Linked DNA regions of Homo sapiens: regions 1, 2, 3 and 5 are each reported to be linked to region 4. The links are microRNA targets in miRTarBase. Many come from high-throughput screens and were not tested one by one. Region 4 holds a microRNA gene; each other region holds the end of a gene's coding sequence.

Evidence for each region. Region 4 holds the annotated microRNA hsa-miR-221-3p (AGCUACAUUGUCUGCUGGGUUUC, at 1,209-1,231, shown strand). A microRNA usually pairs through its seed, bases 2 to 8, with sites in the 3' UTR of a target mRNA and lowers its output. Matches are read on the target gene's strand: a 7mer-m8 pairs with bases 2 to 8, a 7mer-A1 pairs with bases 2 to 7 and ends in A, and an 8mer does both.
Region 1: the mRNA of ARF4 is a reported target of hsa-miR-221-3p. Seed matches in the 3' UTR shown: 8mer at 2,424-2,431.
Region 2: miRTarBase lists PCDHA4 as a target of hsa-miR-221-3p. Seed matches in the 3' UTR shown: 8mer at 231-238.
Region 3: the mRNA of GID8 is a reported target of hsa-miR-221-3p. The part of its 3' UTR that is shown has no 7-base or 8-base seed match.
Region 5: the mRNA of SPAG5 is a reported target of hsa-miR-221-3p. The part of its 3' UTR that is shown has no 7-base or 8-base seed match.

Annotation. Positions count from the first base shown.
Region 1 is chr3:57,569,392-57,572,601 of GRCh38, forward strand. It overlaps ARF4 (ARF GTPase 4), which reads right to left. Exons shown (of 6, transcript NM_001660.4): 6 at 1,972-2,907. The coding sequence ends at 2,821. It also overlaps a transcript of PDE12 not described here. Among named protein-coding and RNA genes, the nearest start is that of PDE12, 15 kb to the left of the region's middle.
Region 2 is chr5:141,009,767-141,012,766 of GRCh38, forward strand. It overlaps PCDHA4 (protocadherin alpha 4), which reads left to right. Exons shown (of 4, transcript NM_018907.4): 4 at 1-2,581. The coding sequence ends at 171. PCDHA1 (protocadherin alpha 1) reads left to right here. Exons shown (of 4, transcript NM_018900.4): 4 at 1-2,581. The coding sequence ends at 171. PCDHA2 (protocadherin alpha 2) reads left to right here. Exons shown (of 4, transcript NM_018905.3): 4 at 1-2,581. The coding sequence ends at 171. It overlaps PCDHA3 (protocadherin alpha 3), which reads left to right. Exons shown (of 4, transcript NM_018906.3): 4 at 1-2,581. The coding sequence ends at 171. It also overlaps PCDHA5, PCDHA6, PCDHA7, PCDHA8, PCDHA9 and PCDHA10, and 7 more genes. Among named protein-coding and RNA genes, the nearest start is that of PCDHB1, 40 kb to the right of the region's middle.
Region 3 is chr20:62,944,507-62,947,506 of GRCh38, reverse strand. It overlaps GID8 (GID complex subunit 8 homolog), which reads right to left. Exons shown (of 5, transcript NM_017896.3): 5 at 1-2,768. The coding sequence ends at 2,595. Among named protein-coding and RNA genes, the nearest start is that of SLC17A9, 6.7 kb to the left of the region's middle.
Region 4 is chrX:45,744,201-45,747,410 of GRCh38, reverse strand. It overlaps MIR221 (microRNA 221), which reads left to right and starts at 1,145; the gene lies at 1,145-1,254. It overlaps MIR222HG (miR222/221 cluster host gene), which reads left to right. Exons shown (of 2, transcript NR_170290.1): 2 at 1-2,197. MIR222 (microRNA 222) reads left to right here and starts at 287; the gene lies at 287-396.
Region 5 is chr17:28,574,774-28,577,983 of GRCh38, forward strand. It overlaps SPAG5 (sperm associated antigen 5), which reads right to left. Exons shown (of 24, transcript NM_006461.4): 24 at 2,801-2,997. The coding sequence ends at 2,926. It overlaps ALDOC (aldolase, fructose-bisphosphate C), which reads right to left and starts at 2,122. Exons shown (of 9, transcript NM_005165.3): 1 at 2,028-2,122; 2 at 648-771; 3 at 350-561; 4 at 179-233; 5 at 1-83. The coding sequence starts at 759. RefSeq lists a silencer at 2,055-2,294 and an enhancer at 2,345-2,524.

The DNA of each region.
Region 1 (3,210 bases), not on the chromosome of region 4:
GCCCAGGCTGGAGTGCAATGGTGCGGTCTTGGCTCACCACAACCTCCACCTCCCAGGTTCAAGCAATTCTCCCACTTCAGCCTCTCGAGTAGCTGGGATTACAGGCATGCACCACCATGCATGGCTAGTTTTGTATTTTTAGTAGAGATGGGGTTTCTCCATGTTTGTTAGTCAGTCTGGTCTTGAACTCCCAACCTCAGGTGATCCACCTGCCTCGGCCTCCCAAAGTGCCAGGATTACAGATGTGAGCCACCCCACCCAGCCTAATACTTTCTTTAAAAACTATAAAAATTACCTGGGCATGGTGGCTCATGCCTGTAGTACCAGCTACTTGTGGGGCTGAGATGGGAGGATCACTTGAGCCCAGGAAGTAAAGGTTTCGGTGAGCCAAGATCCTGCCACTGGACTCCAGCCTGGGTGACAGAGTAAAACCATCTCAAAAAAAAAAAAAAAAAAAAAAAGGTAATTTCCAATGGTACTAAGAGCTGCTTTACATCACGAGTAAGATTACATAGATTCTCTAGTCCCTTTACAGTCCATGTAAACACCTTTGCATAACTAGGTTAAATACCTAGCCCTAACGCTGAACTTATTCACTGATGTTTTATATTTCCTAGTTGATGCCCCATAAGACTACACACACAACAATTATACTATAGTTCAGTTTTATCCTATAGGAAATGACACCTGTCTTCTTTGGAAGGAAGAAAGGAGAATTCATCCAGTTGGCTAGGGAAATTGCATTTCTAACAAGTAACACAAACTAAACATACACTTTGCCCTACCTAATCATCAACCAATTCTAATTTCCTTTTGGTTAATCCAGTGTTTTTTTTTTTTTTTTTTTTGGAGACAGAGTCTTGCAGACCGTGTGCAGTGGCGCTATGTTGGCTCACTGCAACCTCTGCCTCCCAGGTTCAAGCGAGTCTCTTGCCTCAGCCTCTCAAGTAGCTGGGACCACAGCATGCACCAGCACACCAGACCCTTTTTTTTTTTTTTTTGTATTTTTAGTAGAGATGGGGTTTCACCATGTTGCGGCTGGTCTTGAACTCCTGAGCTCAGGCAATCTGCCCACCTTGGCCTCCCAAAGTGCTAGGATTACAGGTGTGAGCCACCACGCCTGGCCATTGTTATTTATTTGACAATTCAAAAATATACATTTTTTTAAAAGTATGCATTTGATTTTGGAATTTTCAATCCATAAATTTAGCTGAATCTTTACAAGCCATTAAGAATGCAACATGAGAATATAGACAGAAACTAAGTTACTCAGTTATCAAGTTGAGCCCTTAAAACTTAATAGATGTAGTTTATGAGGTATACCTTTGTATGAATTATATGCAGCTTTCTGTTAAAGTTCTAAAATTTGCCCTGTTAAAAAGAAAAGTGGTTGTGAAACTTTTTTGTAGGAAAGTAGCATCACTAAGTCTCTATATTGGCCATACAAGTAGCACCTGAATTTTTTTGTTTAATTAACCTTAACTAAAAAACACATACATACATGCTTTTTGGGCAGTTCATTTTATTACAGCCTTTTACTCTCCCTACCCCACTCCACATGCCGCCCCTCCCCACCCCCCACCTGATTTTTTTGTTGTTGTTGTTTTGTTTTTAGTTTTTTAAGTAGAGACAGGGGAAACAGGGTCTTACTACATTGCCAAAGCTGATCTCAAACTCCTATTCTCAAGTGACCCTCCTGCCTCAACCTCCTAAAGTGCTAGGATTACAGGCGTGAGCCACCATGCCAGGCCCTCCTTTTACCCTTGATCTGACTTTAGAAAACTATGTTTTTAATAGTGTTCCCCATGCTGTTATACACATGAAAACAATCTAGATCTCCACTTTATACAATTAGTAACCTACCAGTGGGATCTGTGTTACTGTTCACAGTACATAAAATATGCAAGCAAAGTTGGCTACATAAGAAAATACATTTCAAATACCTTCAAAACTCAAAAAGAACACACACAATTACGTATTTTATCATTTTATTAGGAATAATTCCAAATGGGTTATGAAGAAAATGTATTCATCGAATTTGATGAGTTTTCCAAAAACTCTTAATGAAGATATGTCTGCCCAATAAACAAAACATCAGCAGAACTATCATATACTGAGCAAAAAATCAGGCTGATAACAAAAGCAACATGCAACATAAAAAAGACACAATATAAAGGAAGACAATCTGCTGAGTATTAAAAACCATCTAAATATCAATTCTTTGCAACCAGCACAGAACTAATTGGCTATCAAATCCAAACCCCACCAAGGTTAAGTTTGGCTGATGTAGGCCAGGAGTCAATGTAGGGGGAAAAATTTCCTCAGTGCAAGAGAGCTGAGTAGTGTTTTGGATCTTTCTCTGGCTGGTACAAGCAGTATTAGAAAATCTTTTTGGCAAGGGAGAGAAATAAATACAAATGGAATGCTACATTTTTAAATTAGCAAACTGTCTCAGGAATGATAAAGGTATCAGTAAAGTAGCAAGGGGATAACTTTAAAACATTATTTGTCTGGGGCTCAAAAAACACTCAAAACAATTTATTTAAAGGTTGCACAAGAGCTATGTCCAGGCATTTACGCTTATGGGAAGTAAAATTAAAAGAGGATACTTTTTTCCCAAGGAGAATTTCTTTAAAACCAAGCACATTGCTAAATAGCAACATTATACTCGGTAAACAATAATTGGCAACAAAATAAGTTTAATATTCTGCCCAAACCAGTCCCAGATACTGTTTAATAACCAAGATACAAACTAATTTTGTTGTAACAAGCCTAGACCAATTTTATCAAACATGTCCTTGGTTAGATATCCAATTTCATTTAACGTTTTGAAAGCTCATTTGACAGCCAGTCAAGTCCTTCATACAGACCAGTTCCTTGTGTTGCACAAGTGGCTTGAACATACCACTGTAAAGAGAAGACAAGAAAATACTTGATTAACAAAGTTAATATATAACACCAGTGTTTAAACTTTCTTAATCAAACTTAAGAGTCTTTTCACACCTCTTGCATCTCACAAAACTCTCCCATATTTAAAGCTACTTCTGGCTGGGCGTGGTGGCTCACACCTATAAATCCCAGCACTTTGGGAGGCGGAGATGGGAGGATCACTTGAGCTTAGTAGTTCGAGACCAGCCTGGGTAACATGGTGAGACTTTGTCTCTACTTTTTTAGATTAAATTATTTTTTAAAAATAAAGCCACTTCTACC
Region 2 (3,000 bases), not on the chromosome of region 4:
GCAATCATCTCCATCCGGCAGGAGCCTACTAACAGCCAAATTGACAAAAGTGACTTCATAACCTTCGGCAAAAAGGAGGAGACCAAGAAAAAGAAGAAAAAGAAGAAGGGTAACAAGACCCAGGAGAAAAAAGAGAAAGGGAACAGCACGACTGACAACAGTGACCAGTGAGGTCCTCAAATGGAAACAAGCCACTTAGCCAGTTTTTGTAATAATGGCAAATCTCTCCCATGTAGCAATTCCCTGCTCCTTTTTCCTATCTACATGAGCCCTCTTAGAGACCTCAGAAATCTGCAGAAAGTTCCCTGTGTCTGTCTAGAACGCATTTAACAGGTTTTGTCGTAAAAGCTTTACTAAGTCTGGTGTTAACTCTTTCTCTCCACTCTGGCTTGTTTTCAGAACCTAAAAAGCAGACCCAAGTTTCCTTTCTCCTCCGCCGCAAAGGAGAGGCTTCCCAGCCCCGCCAGTGAGAGGTTGGACTCTCTGCCCTGTGCTCCGGGGATCCTGTCTTGATGACACTTGCAGGGCAGGCTGAAAAGTTTTGAGATTGAGCAGCTTGGGAGTTTGTGGCCACTGGGTATGTGTGGCTACCGCGGGTATGCGAGTGCCAGATATTGGCTGAGACGAGCCAGCTTAGACTAATTGGTACAAGGAAGGCAAGAAAACAAAGACAAATAAACAGCGGAAGTTATCAGTATGGAGGGGAAGTGTAAACTTAAAGGGACCAGACTTTCTAAATCTTACAACTCAAGAGGTGGCAGCCACCCTCTAGGAGACAAAACTACCCCCACTGACAAGGCTTTAGGAGACCCTAAAGTCTGTTGGCTGTGACGTCATTATACCTAAAATCTGCATCATACCTGCAAGCCAACAGTTCAGTGTTTTAACAGAGAACCACCCTGGGAAACAGAAGCAGATCTGATGTGTTTCCTATACATGTCCTGTGCTCACTTTATTAAAAATTCTTTTGCACACAATGTTTATGAAAAGGCCAGATCCTTTTCCAATACTTATGCAAAAGCAAAAGAAAACCCCGACACCTCACCTTTCGCTGTTTGTTGTTTCATAGATTTATTTAAAAAAAGAGAAAGTCTATAGCTATAAATCTTTAAAGAGAAATATGAATACAATTCCCCTAAACTCTCCTCAAAAGAGAATTCAGTCTACAGCCATTTAAATGATCATTGCTGCTACAGAAGTGCTTTAAGAGAATTGCCTGAAACATCTGTATTATATCGGCCACCTGCCAATCACAGCTTTACTCTTTCAGGTCACTCTGGGGCTGCCTCTTGCATGTATTACTAAATAAAATGATCTCTCTTTCTCTCTCTCTCTCTCTTTTCTAAGAAACAATTATGTGCACTTTGATACACAACCTTCTCTAACCAACTATATATCAAGACCCAAAAATTGAAGAAAAATATTGTTTTCTCATACAGTGAGCAGATTTTTCAATCTACTAATTCTGTGACTTGTCTTGGTGTGCTAGCCTACACCTTCTCTTTGGTTTAGTTTTCCTTTTCTATAACACTCTGAATTGCTAATCTTACTAACACCTATGATGTTACCTGAAATCAATCTCCCATATGTATGCTGTATGCTATGCTAAGACTCCTGAAATATACTTACTCTGTGCTTGTGTATGTGAATGTTAATGCAACTATTACCTAGAGTGAACTTTAAGCTTTATTGTTGAATGTAATTCCATTATATTTCCTTTTGTACACCTGTGAAAAAGTGGAGTAGTGTTTTTTTAACCATTGTTAATCAGCTTTTGTGTATGAAAGACACAGTAAAATTTCTTTCTTAAATCAAGATACTGGTGATTCAAGGAATTTTATTTATGGTCCAGCCAAGAGCCATCTCGTGCCAAGACTTCTGCTGGCAAGGGAATGGATAAAGCTGTTTTGTTCTAGTAACAATTTTGGAATGAATACTGACAATATTCCATGAGGGTGTGCAAGCACAAATTTTACCAATCTGACCTCTTTGAAGTTGCAGAATGCTTTGAAATTCTAATGGTATCTGAAATATCAGCTCATAGAAAGTAACAAAATTTGCTGTCACCTTAAATAAGACATTTTAATTTTGTTATAATGTACAATTTAGAAGTTTGATTAATTATATTATCTATTTAGGCATTAATATAAAAGAGGTAGGAGTCTGTTATTTAAAAAAAGCATTAAATTTAAAAAAAAACTGTCTTGTCTACTTTTAGCTTCATTCTCCCATATTTTGAAGGGTGTGTAACTTCAGCTCTGCAGGATTGCATGGGGTAAAACTTGTTACCAACACATGTGAACCATTGCTACATTGTAGGTTGTGATCATTTTGCCCCACTGAAGCCCATGTATCTGACCTTACGTGCCTTTTGAACTAGGAGAATCGGGCTAATTTATTAATGATGATAATTATAATGTATCTGTACAGCACTTTTTACATTTGCGAAGTGCTTTCCAATCCATGTTAGTTACTAGTTATTACAGCTGTAAGGATAAAACACGTCATGTGGATTCATTTTGAATTGGTGCTATTGGTATTTCCTCTGTTATTGCTAATAAATGAAAATGGTGGTATGAAAGAAATGGTGGTCATTTCTAAGAATAGGAGGAAATAGAACACTGATAAGCAATTAATACTGAAGAAGATTGCTGCAGTATGAAACTCACTGTAACACTCTCTTATCACGTTAGCTTTTATGTCCATTACTAAGGCAAAAGCCCCAGTGGAATCAAGATTCAAACTTCATATCATTAGAATGGGCAGCCAGGAGGTTGCTGCGTCACTTTGTAGTTACACTATTTCAGTTTTCTCTAATAAGAATTGCAACAAACCCATTTTTATCACAAGAGCCCTTCTAGGCATCTTTTTCATTACTTGTTTAGCCCTTGCACCTCTCTACAATTGGAAAGCCAAGTGACACCCCAAAGAAATGAACTTTTAGGTCAGGGATAGTGGCTCTTGCCTGTAATCTCAGAACTTTGGAAGGCCAAGGCCAGA
Region 3 (3,000 bases), not on the chromosome of region 4:
TCCAGCAGAAAGTATAATAAGAATAAACTACTTTGTAAAATGTGCCATTTTTATAAAGACAACAGTGAGATCCAAAATGAGACAAAGTAGAATTATACTGAATGTTCATTATCCCAAAGTGGCTTAATTTCATTTGCTTGCTGCAAAGACAAAGACTGTAAAAAGGAGCAAAGAAAGTGTGCAAAGCACTTCCTTGGAAGACCTCGTCCACTAACAGATCACAAGAAAAGCAAGTGCAGCCCCTCACACGAAAGGAAGGCAGGCAGTAACATCGGAGACTTCCCAGTCTCCCCGACGTCTGCTCACGCTGGATGCTGGCACTGGCTTATCATGAAGGGAAGGAGAGCAGTAACGCTGGAGACTTCCCAGTCTCCCCGACATCTGCTCATGCTGGATGCTGGCACTGGCTTATCAGCTACCCACTGGCTGAAATGGAAATCAACACCAGCACTTCACGTGACAGCCACATAGTGACAGTCCAGGCACGTGAATGACCCCATTTGTGTTCCCCTAGTTTGTGGAGAGACTTCCTATTGCTGTGCTTCTCACACCCTCTAGTTTTAAGAATATGTCAAATTGATGATATATTATGCAAGTAAACGATCTTATATACACGAATAGTGAAAGGTAATTAGGAATATGCTGAATCACCTGGTGCTGTTGAAGAAAACGTGCAGATGCATCTCTCTCACCTCACCGCTTTCTTCTAGCTTCTGCTATATTTCATCCCCTATTAGTTACTCTCTTTCCCTCCAACTTATCTTCATCCTCAAACCTCAGAGGAAATAATCGCAAGGGTCACATCTGGGAGAGTGGTAGTTGGAAGGCAGCATTTCTAGGGGGTAGGGAAGCACCACCTCCCCAGCACCGCATCCTTACAAAATCTAAAGGGCAACCAATGGGTCAGTCTGGAGGCCGCCATGCTTCTGTAACAACCGCAGCAATTTTATCTTTGCATCTCTTACTGGATTATATAAGCCATCTAGGTAAAGTAAACACTGCCAAAAGCTCCTACCCACTGGAAAGAGAAGTAGAGGGCTTGAAAACACAACTTCGCCAGGCTCCAACACAGAAAGAAGCATCATTCAGAGGCGAGAACAATGCTGTGGACGCCTCCTGATCAACACTCAAGGGATGCAGGAGCTCGGTGAGGACGGTCCCTCAGAGGCAGATGACCCGACCGGCTCAGGTACTGGCAAGCTGGCCACCAGACCTAGACCATGCTTGTCGAGATGCCTTGCTACTTGAGAATAAGGCGAGATCCCAGATTCAAGTGCTAGCAGCATTCTGCCCCTCAGATGCGCCGGCAGGCTCCACTGGCTCCAAAGGACGCCCTTGGATGGGTCAGCAATTCCACGAACATCCACTAAACCAACACTTAGCACTGCTCAGTGGGGTCAACAGTGCCCGGTGGTCCGCTGCAATGAATCCAAACACATCTGTGCCCAGAGCTACAAGGCCATGTGCCCATCAACTGTCCCGACTCGCAGGCAATGCACGCAGCCCTGCACCACTTCCCTCCTGCCCACCACGGAGCAGGGGACAGTTCTGTGAGTGAACAGAAGCAGGACATCGGCAGAGCCAGCTGACGATGGAGGATGAGATGCTGCCGAGATGCTGGAGGGCAGATCACTGAGGATGAACACGCGTTCCTTCCGCCAACAGTCGTGCACCACCTGCTGGGGCTCTGCGTCCCCACCGGCCAAGGGCTGCCTCGCTCTAATGAAGGCCGCTCACTCAGCACAGGGCCAAGTGGCCTTTCCAGCTGCAGGTACCAGAAAAAGCCACTGCCGCTATCACAGGGGGAAGAACGCCCCAAAGACAAAAGGTCATTTGAGATGATTAACATCTTTTAGAGGCCATTTTGGTCATTCTTGAAATCAAAGAGAAACCTTTATTTTCAACAAAACTGCCCAGAAGAGATGGTTCATTGATCCACTAGGAACAAGTCTCTTACCACACACAGCACCAAAATATATATTTAAAAAATTAAAAAACACATAGCCCCCTCACACGCATCCCCCAAAAGCCACACAACCCAGACCAAAGGGAAAACAAATCAAACTCAATGCCCTCACACATGAGCCATCTTTGAATTAGGATTTACAAATTTATATATTCTTTCCTATGGAAAAAGAAAAAAAAAAAAACACAAAAACCACAGGGGTAAGGAAAAACTTGTAGGTGAAGGCCCAATGTCTGCCTAAGCTAACAGAAAGCAGAATCATGATTCGTGCTTTTCCTGTATTTTGAGTGGGATGCAGCCTAACAGCACAGCCCTCCGTGGTAGACCGAATCCTTCAGCAGCCAGAGGCCCCCGAACACTGGAAGAGCAAACCGCAACCTTCCAGATTCTTCAGCGAGTGCCAGAGTGCAGGCTCTGCATCAGACTGCCAAAGAGACGGCAGCTTTCCTTGCAAGTTTTCCACTGCCTACAAAGGCCATTTTTCCCTATAAAAAGATGCCAGGTCAAAAAAAAGTACAAGGGAGAAAAAGAGTTCTCTACTGCAGTAAGAATCTTGCAGTCGCAGGCTGATCTGAGGCAAGTCCCACGACGCAGGGCTGGTGTTGGATCCACCACGCAAGCGCAGGCGCTACTTGGGCTCCTCAATCACACCCTTGCTGAGGTCTGTCATTTTGGGATATTTTACTTTCTTCTGGTCCAGCTCGTTCTGAGCCCAAAGTAGTAGTTTCAGTAATTTTGCCAGTTTGGGTGTTGACTCGCGATTTTCATAATCTAGCACAGCTTGGTTAACTTCACTCCACACCTAGAATATAAATACATCTGATAAAAACCACCATACACGCAGAGCACCAGCAGAGTCTATTAAAAAGAGGCAGTTTAAACAAACATTAAGCTCTTAACTGCGAGACACTCTCAGGACATGAAATACATAGTCCTTGCCTGGGGAAGCTCACAGTCTGGTTGTTAAACGTCACATGCAACCTCGATGGCAGTTAAGTGCCATGAGCAAGCCTTGAACAAAGTGCTGAGGGGAC
Region 4 (3,210 bases):
AGATTTTGTCACAAGGAATCATGTATGCTGTAGAAGTATAGAGATTTTCCACTTTTTTTGTTTGCTGCTGGATCTCCAGCACCTAAGAAAATATGTGGCACTTTATTTAATGTCACTCAGTCAGTATCTGTTGGATAAGTAAATAAATCCAGAGGTTGTTTAAAATTACGTACATGGGAATATTGTCAAAATGTCAATTCATGATCCAAAGAAAATGTGCAATTGAAATCTGATATCTTCTTTTTTCTTCCACAGAGCCCCTCCCCAGAAGGCAAAGGATCACCCAGCTGCTGGAAGGTGTAGGTACCCTCAATGGCTCAGTAGCCAGTGTAGATCCTGTCTTTCGTAATCAGCAGCTACATCTGGCTACTGGGTCTCTGATGGCATCTTCTAGCTTCTGCTTCAGTGTCCTGAGAGAGATTATTGGGCAGTCTTTAATAATGAAAACTTTACCTTGAATTACACACACACACACACACACACACACACACACACACACACACTCACACACACACTCACACACACACAAAGAGAGAGAGAGAGAGAGAGAGAGAGAGACAGAGAGAGAGGAGAGAGTCAAGTTCTAGGGTGTTAAGTCCAACATTATCAGCTGGGGCTTGGGAACCTTCAAGGTTTTATGAATGATGAGGTCTATTTGCTTTCAATACTACAAGGGGGAGGAATCTGGATATTTATCCATGTTTTAGCTCTTACCTGTTTTTGTTTTACCTCTTTTTTTCTCTTTCCCCCCTATGAAAGGTATCATTTGGATAGATCAATCTATTCATCTATCTACCTACCTACCTATCTACCCCTACCCATCCACCCATTTATCCATCCACCCATCCATCCATCCATCCACCCACCTGCCCACGTACCTACCAGTTTATCTATCCGACCTTCCTTCCATCCAGCTTTTTCATCTCTTGACTTTTAGATGGCATTTTCAACATGATGTCATGATTAAATGATGACAACTTGATGATATGATGGTTTAAGGAAATTTTGTTGGTAGTAGGTAAGTCCCAGCATTTCTGACTGTTGGTTTTCTTTTCCTTGTGGTAGAAAAGACAAATGCCAATTTTGAAATCTTGAATGCAGTAGGCAGTTGTGTTGAAATAGTATGTGAGAATTACTTGCAAGCTGAACATCCAGGTCTGGGGCATGAACCTGGCATACAATGTAGATTTCTGTGTTCGTTAGGCAACAGCTACATTGTCTGCTGGGTTTCAGGCTACCTGGAAACATGTTCTCCATTGGCTGTCTCACCAATGCTACCCCTATAATGTTTCTGAATAACTGTTTTCCAGGAGGTATAAACCAGTGGAGTTTATCATTGAATAGAGTGCAGAGAAAGGACCGCAAGAAAGCTGATCACCTCAGCAATGAATGATTTCAATACGATTTCACCCAAATGGTCTCACACACCAGCCTAGTAAACCAGAGATAAGGTGTAATGTCATCCTTCCTTCCTTCTCCCTGCCTCAACTGTCAAAGATTGACAACTTACATGTTGTTTACTTTTTGGCTTCTATTTCTGTTCATAATTATTATCAGAAGGCATAGCACCCACAAGCCTAATCATACTGCCTTACAACCTTATTCCTCTTCATTTTGTCTTCTCACTTACCTGCAGAAACCCAGTTTATTTTTGTTCTCCCTTTACCACACCAGCCTTGTAACTGTTATGAATGACCCTCAATCTCACTGGAATCTGAATCACTCAGGAATTCAAGCAAACTGGATGTTTTAACCACTGTTCAGCTTTCTTATGGAATGACAGAGAACTTGTAAAGATAAAACACCAGTTTGCAGGAAGAAAGGAAGAGAATGGAAATTGCTTCTGGAAAATACTAGTTTTACAATATGTTTTGTTTGTCTGCTCTCTTAAATAAACTTAATCCTATAAACATTTTTTAAGAACTAGCCATTAAGACTGTTAAGTTCTCAATTATAAAGGAATAAAATGTTTTAAGGAGGATTTATTTGCCCTTGCTTATATGAACTGCATATTTTTAGTAGGAAATCATGTAATTTAAATTAGTATTGGTTAACAGATTTAACGTAGAAAATGGACATATAAAGAATACAAGGATAAATGTCTACATGTAATAATGGATGGTAGTGATATAATGCATTTTTGTCATCCCATGCTGAATTCAGTAAAAATAAAGCTAATGACTTGGAGCTTTTAAAAGATTGTACTGTTCTCTGTGTGTGTCTTTTGGCTTCCTACTCACCAATCAGTTCTATTATCTATTCTGTACCTGAGCCACTGGCTTTTGTGACCCGGGAAGAGAAAGTAATTCCACTTAAGACGTTTGACAGGCTTTTAAGAGAAATAAGTGGCTCTGTGCAACATGGTTATGTTTAATAAATCATAATTACCAAAGGGACAGTTTCTCTTCTCCCATGTCCACTCATACTTTTTTTTTTTTTTTTTTAAAGAGATGAGTTCTCATTCTGTCATTCAGGCTGGAGTGCACTGGTACAGAACTCTTGGGCTCAAGTGATCCTCTCGCCTCAGCCTCCAAAAGTGCTGGGATTACAGGCTTGAACCACCATGCCCAGTCCTCCACTCCTTACTTCTGATGTTCTTTGAGTCCCTTTGCCTATCATTAAATGAGAAGGTGTTGACAGTGGTGCCAGGTGTGAAGAACTCCCTAATTCCATTGATAAGTTTACATTTCCCTCTCAGGTACAAGTATTGGGTTGATCCTCAAAGCAAGATTGAATGTTGTGATAATATAATAAGAAAAAGACATATTTGGTCTTCACCCTCAGTTCCTGGAACAGAGCTGCTAAAACTGTCATAATTTTCTAACTAATAGAGGTGATAGCATCTTTTGTTAAAGTATTTGGTCTTAGTCCCCTGTTCCTGACACAAGAGCTTCTAAGATCCTTGGACTCTCTGGAGTGATGAGTGTCTTTCTGTATGCTAACAAGATAATGAGATGACTTGGCTTAGCGGGGAGTAGAGGTGGTGGCAAGTTAGCTTCAGGATGAAGGCTGGTTGTCAGAAAGACCAAGGTATGATTAGAGGGTTGGAGCTTTCAACATTCAATCCCACCCCTGACCTCTGACAACTGAGTTGATCACTGTCTTAGTCCATTCATGCTGGTATAACAAAGTACCCGCGACTGGGTAATTTATAATGAACAGTAATTTATTTTCTTATAGTCCTAGAAGCTGGGAAGTCCAAGGCCAAGG
Region 5 (3,210 bases), not on the chromosome of region 4:
GATTTTCAGCACACAGCGCCACTTGGCAAAGTCAGCACCATCCTTCTTGTATTGGGCACAGCGTTCTGAGAGCCCATCCAGCCCTGCAAGCACAGTGCCAACCTCATTACTCTGCCCCTCTTTTACCAGCATCAACTATCTAACACCTCTTTGGTCCTCAAGCCCACCCATCCTATACCTTGAGTGGTGGTTTCTCCATCAGTCCCAGCTAGAGGCACCACACCCTTGTCAACCTGTAGAGGAAGTACAAGCAGAGGGTTGAATCCAGGCAGGATTCTCCTTGCTACCCCTCCTACACAAGCTTATTTTCACACCCAGCTTCCATTCAGAGCAGGGCCAGGGGCTGCACCTTGATGCCCACGACGATGCCCTTATCCTGGATGGTTCGGACGAAGGGAACACCATTATCATCTTTCTGGTAGAGGGTCTCATGGAAGAAAATGACGCCTCCAATGCACTTTTTCACACGGTCATCAGCACTGAACAGGACCTGGCGGTACAGCCGGCGGTTCTCCTCTGTGTTTTCCACCCCAATTTGGCTCAGCCGCTTGGCCATGCTGCCTAGGGGCAAACAAAGAGAGGCAGTGAGAACATCCCCAGGGTCCCCTAGCCACCTGTACCCTACCTGGCTACAGATGTCCACTTACCTACAGACTCATCCGCAGCCAGAATGCCTTTGCCCGGGGCTACAATCCGCAGGGCAATGTCAGACAACTCCTTCTTCTGCTCAGCAGAAAGGGCTGGGTACGAGTGAGGCATGGTGACAGCTCCCTGGAGTGGAGACAAGATAAAAAAGCCAGACCTCACCCTCTGCTGCCTCTCCTGGCCAGATGGGCCAAATGGCCTCCCCATCAAGCAAGGGGCTGGGAACAGGGCAGCAGTCCTTGGCATGAGTCCTGGGCATCAAGTGGCACCAGTCCTTCTGACAGCTAGCAAGCTTAGGGCTCCAGTTCCCACATCTCCTTTTGTCCCTGGTAGGCATCCTTCCCAGCCCTGGGGAAAGATGCAGGGTGGGGGTGGGGAGGTGAGCAGCCCTGAAGCCACAGCTCTTCTGATAAATCTGCTGCCCAATCAAGGATGCCAACCCTTCTTTCACTGAACTTGGTCCCTTGTTGAGGTAGGCAAAAGTCCTGGCCTTTCCAGCTTCCCTTTTCTCATCCTCCACAGGACCCCTAGGGAAAGTGTACTTACTTCCAAGGCTTCAGAATGAGGCAAAAGTACTTATTGCCACCCTCTTCTCTCAGCTTCTAGAGGAAAAGGTTGGAAGAACAGGTAGGGAGTAGGAGTGGCACAAATACCAGTCACAGGCTCCTGCAGCTTCTCCTTTTCTGTACTCCAAACCTGCCTGCCTATGCCTATTGCCTATTCCCACCCAGTACCAGAGGTTGGCCCCAGTGGGGCTGCAGTGATGTAGGAAAGAGGGCCCAGCGGGTCAGCTGTGTTAGTGTGTGGAGACTAGGGCTAGTGACACCTCCGGGTCATCTCTGTGCCCAGGAAGCACTTCACCTGTTTGGCAGGAGGATAGCAATAGGAAGCACTTCAATTCCCCACAACTCAGACACCCAGACGGGAGGGCAGAGGACCAAGGCTGAAAGGAGTAGAGAGCCTGAGAGAGAGATGAGACTGAGGGGAGCTAGTGGTGATGCAGGCTAACCAGTCAGCGGGAGAGACCTAGACCGGGGGGCAGAGAAGGCGGGAGAACTGGAGAGAGGACCTAGCCTAGGAGGAGAGGGAGCAGGCTGAGAAGGAAATGCTCTGGGTAGGAGAGACAGACTCCAAGGAAAAATCCAACAAGTAGAGGAGGATTTGGGATTGGAAAAGCTGAGGTCCAGCTGGGAGAGCTGAAGAGGGATAGAACAGAAGAGGTTGAGCCATGGGGTTTCAAGTACGCGGAAAGGAGCAAAGATGTTAGGAAAGGGTCGAAAGGGCACATCCCGGAGTCCCAGGTAGCAGGACGAGGATGGCAGGGGAAGAGCCAAGGAAATGAAGCGGAGATGTTGAGTGGCTCCCGCCTTGCCTGGCCTTACCTGTGCGCAGCCAGTTAGCAGCCGCAGCCACAAGCACAGCTCGGGTTCTGATCCGCAAACAGATGAGGCTGCAGCCCTGGCTCCCTCTGGTAAATGAGGCTGCGGATGTCGCAGAGCTACGTGACTCCTCCGGGGGCGTGGCCTGCATGCCCCGCCCTGACCACACCCCCTCCCCAGGACTGGTGTCCGGGGCAAGACCACGCCCTCAGAGGCGGGGCGGCGAGGTGGAGTGAGCGCCCCGCCAGGCATCCGTGGCTGTTAGGGACTGCCCTCCCACCTCGGGGAGCCTGGCCATGACCTTGCGTTCATTTCTGCCACAATCCCTTTACCACGTGCCGGGCACTTGCTGGATGCTGGGGATTAAGCTTAGTCTGGTGAAGAGGAGGCACCAGAACAGTAACAACAGGTTGAGTAGGTGGGGCAGAAGCATCTTCAAGGTGCCCAAGTTCAGGGCAGGAAGTAATGAACTGAGCTTCTCTGTCCTCACCCCCATATTTGCCAGGGTATACCCCCGAGGGGGCTGGGGAAAGTAAGAGAATGAAGCCTTTCTGTTTCCTCCAGGCGGTGAGCCAGGGAACAAGCAGTCCAGTGCCCAGAGTTTTGGTGAAAGCAGAGGAAGGGAGGAAGGGCAGGCAGCCTTGGCTTTGGATGCAGCAGGAGGTGGAGAGGGATCTATGGAGGGTGCCCAGGCAGGAGGCCCAAGCTGCTTCTTCCCTGACTTCATCATCCGCCCCCTCTCACCCAAAAAGTAAGATTCCGTAAGCTTGGAGAAATTCATTAAATACACTTTATTTAAATAGCATTTATCTCAGTTGGCTCTATGCCAGTTGGTCTTGGTATTGGGGTAAGGGGGTATTGCAGGTAAAAAGAGGTGAAGCAGATTCTGGCTTTCAGTTTCTTAGCTCAGAAATTCCAGCAATCCCTGTAGTTCTTTGCATCCCCTCACCACCTCTGGAATAGAGAGCAGGGTCTGGGAAGAGAGGCAGAAAACGCAGCTCAGGACCACAGACTTAAGGCCCAGGGCTCCCAGCCCCAGGAGGCAGCCGCTGAATTAGAGGGGAGAAAACAGACACCACAGAGAAGCCTGCAATAGTGATTCAGGCCCAGCTCTCAGCACAGGCTGGGAACCAGATCTGTGCTCATTAGTACCTCCTGGGGCCAGGCCTTGTACCAGGTTCATTAG